Linked DNA regions of Homo sapiens: region 1 is linked to region 2. The links come from fine-mapping of genetic effects on gene expression. A gene starts in region 2. The other region holds a variant in brackets. All regions are shown on one strand. Distances are between the middles of the regions. Region 1 overlaps XRN1 (5'-3' exoribonuclease 1). Region 2 holds the start of ATR (ATR checkpoint kinase).

Region 1 (3,035 bases), 200 kb before region 2:
CAGAGATGAGGTTTCGCTGTGTTGGCCAGCCTGGTCTCGAACTCCTGGCCTCAAGTGATTGCCTATCTTGGCCTCCCAAAGTGCTGGGATTACAGGAGTGAGCCACCATACCCAGCCAACATTGACATTTTGAAGAATATATAATTTGTCCCTCCCTCTCCAACCTGCCTTTTAAAAACAAAACAAAACAAAAAAACAGTTCCTTATTTTGGGTTTGTTTGATGCTTCCACATAATTAGGTTATGGTAGTACATTCACAGCCAGAATACTGCATAGGTGATGTGTCCTCCAAAGGGTATTACATCTGGAGGTACACAATGTTCATCTGTCCTTTAATGCGATGCTAACTTTGATTATACCATTAATATGTTGCTCAATTTTTTTCCTGCATAATTACAGTTTTCGTTTCCCTTGCAGCTAATAAATAATCTGTAGGAGATACATTCTAAGACCATGCAAATATCCTGCTCCTGATTTAAAAAAAAAATGCCCCCTAGATTTAGTTCCCAAAGATGATTCTTACATGATTCAATCTTTATCATAATGGTTGCACAATGGTTTTTCAACTGCAGCACTCTCTCCAAATTTACTTCTTACATGCTACTACAGACAAGAGACCTTCCTTTCCCTATTTATCTTTTTACTGTCACTACGGAATCATGAATTCCTGTTTTCCCCCCAGTGGTTTATAATTAACTACTGAATTTAATTATTTTGTCACTCAAAGTATCCAAGATTTGGGCAGTGGTAGTACCCTCAACCTGGTTCCTGTGTTTACATGACATACTCCCACCATTCTTCTGAGCACCTCCTTACTTTCTGACATAACAAGATGTTCCAGGTTCATCTTGTATCTTCCCTGCCCCAGATCCAGAATCAGCAATTTCTCTGAGAAGCCCTGTTCCTTTTAGTGAGTTATGAAATTAGACGTCAAGATCTGGGTGGTACATGTGCTCATTGTGCTAAGGTGTCTTTGCTTCTTATTCCTTTCAGCAAATAGAGCTAGAAACATATGCATACGTGTATATATATATACACATATATATGTGCCTATATACACAGATATACAAACATATATACATATTTTAGAAACCAAGAGTTCACACTAATACTTCCAAATCTGTCCCTATAGGTTCTTTCTTGCTTTCTCTCCTTCCATATTTGCATGTACCTTTTTCCATTTAAGAACCAAAGTTCCTCAAATATGAACGCATTTACAAATTCACTCAAGCCTATTACATGTCTAAAATAGTTACAAAATCGTTTCATCCATACCACTACAATAAACAAAACTGC[TA/T]AAAAAAAAGAGATCAGGATTTGAACACACCACCTCTTGATCCTAATCTGCTCAAGACTAAAAGTATATGGTCTTTAGTCTTAGATATATAGTATTTAGATATATAAGTCAAACACTGTGTTCATAAGTTACATGGATAAATTCTTTATTTTTTCCCTTCATTATTATATTTTAATTTAAACCTAAATGAAGAGAAGTTAAGTAACTGCTTTAAACTAGAGAAAAATGTATCAGTAACAATAATGGAAACTAACTTCTCCAGTGCAGCCATAATAGGGAGTTCCCAGCATAAAGACCATACTTCTCAGAGGAAACAAATCATCCAATGTTTTGATATTGGAGAAACGGGAGTCGAAAGCTCGGATGTCCTACATAAAATAAAAGTAAATAATCTTAGTCATAATTTCTATAGATTGCGTATCAAGTTTTTTTCCTATGGGATTATGACTATGCTGTTTGCAAATGTCAATGTGAAGATTTTTCTACATAATGCCAAGAGCTAAAATTTGTTGACTGGTTATATGGCAGGCACCCTTCTATGTGCTTCACACATTTATTGAGTTCATTTAATCCTCATGACAAACCTCTGTGGCAGAGACCATTATTAGCCTCACTTTACAGATGACAAAACTGGGGCACAGAAAGGGGATGAATCTTGTCCAAGGTCATGCAGCTAAGAAGCCAACTCAGGCAGCCAGTGTTCTTAAGTCACTTAATCACTACACTGTACTATAACACCCCAAATTACAGGATCGCTACATACTTAAAAAAATTTTTGTCCTCTTATCGTATCTAAGATTATAAATGCAAAAATAAAATGCCTTTTACATTTATAAGATTTAAGGCAAACATTTTTGAAGAATAAAAATATAAAATTCAAGGGTGTAAGTTAATGGTGGGATTTTTTCTTTTAGAGTCTAAGTCCTTAAAAAAAACCATAAAAGGCTGGGCGCAGTGGCTCACGCCTGTAATCTCAGCACTTTGGGAGGCCGAGGTGGGTGGATCACGAGGTCAGGAGATTGAGACCATCCTGGCTAACATGGTGAAACCCCATCTCCACTAAAAAATACCAAAAAATTAGCCAGGTGTGCTGGCGGGCACCTGTAGTCCCAGCTACTCGGGAAGCTGTGGCAGGAGAATGGCGTGAACCCAGAAGGCGGAGCCTGCAGTGAGCCGAGATGGCGCCACTGCACTCCAGCCCGGGCAACAGAGCGAGACTCTGTCTCAAAAAAAAAAAAAGAAAAAAAAAAAAGCATACGAAAGCATAAAAGACAAGTTTCCTAACTATATATACTGAGTGTCTGAGCATGTAATACTTCTTACAAATAATAAGTTATTTTGTAAATTATATTAAATGATAATCTCTATTATACATTGCTGAATTAGTCTATTTATATTAACATATCTTTTCATTATACAGTGAATAGTGTATTAATAGTGTATATTAAGACAGAATTGAAACTTGATATAGACTTACCTTGACAATAGTTTGATAAACAAAAGGAACAACTTGTTTTGACCACTGTTTCTCTAGACGAACTTCACCATTTTGATTTATTTGATATTTACGACCTGTGAGTAACTGAGCATACACAACTGCAGATGTTTCATTTATTATTATTCCTTTTCTTCTCAGGTAGCTAAAATAAAGAATAAACATGAAATATACATATGAATGAGTATGCAGATATTCTAGGACGATAATCGTCAACTATCGTAAACTATCAACTCATAATCA
Region 2 (2,500 bases):
AATGATAATTTAACTGCGGTAGCAGCACAAGCTTATTTATTTCTTGTTCGCAGTAGTGTAGAATTAAAACAAACAAAGCAAAACAAGCTCTACCGAGTCTTTAGGCCTGGTTCAGGGAAGCCTGCCTGTGTATTGAAGAGGTGTGAGAGCCATCAACACCTCTCCCTCCTTGTGGTAAGATACTGGTTTTCATGAGGTTTACAGACAACATGCATTTGCAAATGAAATATTAAATTGTCTCCAAATTTTGGCAACACTCTGTGCACGCTGAGATTTTGTGGACCCAGGGGTCTATCTCTCCAATTTCTGACTAAAATAACGGATCGGGAACTGGACGATCAATACGAGGGAGGTCACATCTTCAGTATGTACTATGACTTCACTTCAAAGAAAAAAACTGCCTTTTCCAGCAAGTGATGTCACTTGCAGAAAATGAGAAGCGGTGATTTTCTTTCAAGGGCAGTTTGGGGACAAAATGTAAGGCTAAAAACCAATTCCTCCACGAGTGATCACAAAGAACAGAAACTGATGGGTCAAGTCCCTCGTCTAAGGAAAAAGATTTTCGAGAAGAAAATGAGTGTAGAAAAGTGACCAGAAAGCGATCAGCAGGGACTCTTCCTCCAGCTGCAGGAAGCAAACTCTCGATCGGGGTGAGTGGTAAACCAGGGCCGGCAGACGCCTCTCTCCCCCACGGACCGGCTTCCCGCAGGTTTGTGGCGACTGCCCCATGTGCTATCAACGGGCACTCTGAGGGAGAAGCGCCCAAATCAGCCACGGAGCATCTCCACAAGGGCCGCAGCGGGGGCTTAGGGGATCCCAGCCATAGCGCAGCAGGGGAGGGGAGAGCACGTGAAACCCAAGCCGGAATCAGCGGAGGAGGATGCAGGACCCAGGCTGGGCCTAGCCCTACCTGCCCAGCTCCCGCAGGGCGGGGATCATGGAAGCCAGCTCCAGGCCATGTTCCCCCATGCTGAGGCTGCGAGGCACTAGTCAACCACGCCAACGCGGGTTCCCGGCGTCTCCAAAGCTACCGCTGCCGGAAGAGCGCGGCGCCCGACGGAGCCGTGTGGAGGCCAAAACTCCTCCCGGAAGCCGCTACTGGCCCCGCTTGCCAGGCCCAGCGTCTTTTCTGCATAGGACCCGGGGGAAGCCGGGAAGCCGTTAGGGGGCGGGGCAAGCGGGCGGGCGTGCGTCGGTCAAGTTTCCCGGGTCGCGTCAGGCTTCTTTCTCAGCACCGAGCGAGCGACGTTCGTGAAGCTTTCGTTTTGAGCGGCCAGACTCTGCTGTTCTCAAGCCTGGGAGGCACAGAGAAGCAAGACTTCCGCATCGGGGGAGGATAGGGCTTGAGGGCCGCCAGCCCAGACTCGCTTCACAAATGTGAGAACTATGACAGTCCAGCGAGTAAAGGCCAAGAGTAAACTCCAGGTTTCCCCAGAGTAACGCTCTCACATTTTAAAAGTTCCTCACGTTCCCACCGCTCTTGTCCCTCTTTCTGAGAGATACAGGCCAAAAGGTGGGCTCTCCCTGTTTTTTTCCTTTTAAGCATTTTTTTTCAACTTGAAGTCACTGTTAGGTTTCGTTGAGGACCCTACCAACTTTTAATATTTGAAAATGGGGTTGGAATATATTTGTGTCTCATCAAATCAGCAACAGTACTGTGTGTGGAAATGCCACCATTACGGGCATCCGCAACCTGTGATTTAATTTTTAAAGTAAATCAATGGATTTTGGCAATACACATTTTCTAGCTCAACTCAATTTATTGGAAAGATGACCACCATAAGAGATTGTTGACATGTCAAAGTTATGTAGTTAATCACTCAAAGTCATGCAGTATGTTTACATTTGTTCTTTGGTACATGAGGATAGTTAACCGATACAGTATCTTAAAGAAAAAAGTGATGGAATGACAGCCAAATATGCTCTTGCCTCAAGAACTTTGCATTTGCTGTACTCTCTGCCTTGAACACCACTCTGTCATTGCCCTTTTTCCTTCAGGTGTTTGCCAAATTAACACCAAAGAGCCTCATATAGACTAACATATATACACATTCTGTCTCACCCTCTTTTTTTTGTTAGATACATTGTCTTACTCTGTTGTTCAGGTTCTAGTGCAATGAATGTTGCAATCATAGCTCACTGCAGCCTCAATCTCCCAGGCTCAAGCGATCCTCTCACCTCAGCCTGGGCTCAATTGATCCTCCTGCCTCAGCCTCCTGAGTAGCTGGGACTACAGACATGCCACCACGCCTGGCTAATTATTTTTTGTAGAGACAAGGTCTTGCTATGTTGCCCAGGCTGGTCTCAAACTCTTGGCCTCACACGCTCCTCCCACCTCAGCCTTCCAAAGTACTAGAATTAGAGGTGAGAGCCACCACACCCGGACATACTATATTATTGTCTCTCTCCAGTTAGAGTGTAAGCTCTTGGAGAGCAAGGTCTTGTCTATTTTGTTCACTCTCAGATACCCAGGACCTAAAACTGTGCCTGGCACATAGGT

The links. PIP is the estimated chance that this variant, and not a neighbour inherited with it, causes the effect. A credible set is the group of variants that fine-mapping cannot tell apart.
Region 1: its variant is the best candidate, but not a certain one, in a credible set for the expression of ATR in whole blood (TOPMed, PIP 0.77).

The regions. Positions count from the first base shown.
Region 1 is chr3:142,381,749-142,384,783 of GRCh38, forward strand. It overlaps XRN1 (5'-3' exoribonuclease 1), which reads right to left. Exons shown (of 41, transcript NM_001282857.2): 21 at 2,775-2,937; 22 at 1,552-1,665. Among named protein-coding and RNA genes, the nearest start is that of XRN1, 65 kb to the right of the region's middle. The variant TA/T (reference allele first, on the strand shown) is at 1,297.
Region 2 is chr3:142,577,736-142,580,235 of GRCh38, forward strand. It overlaps ATR (ATR checkpoint kinase), which reads right to left and starts at 998. Exons shown (of 47, transcript NM_001184.4): 1 at 911-998. The coding sequence starts at 969. RefSeq lists enhancers at 789-948, 1,249-1,348.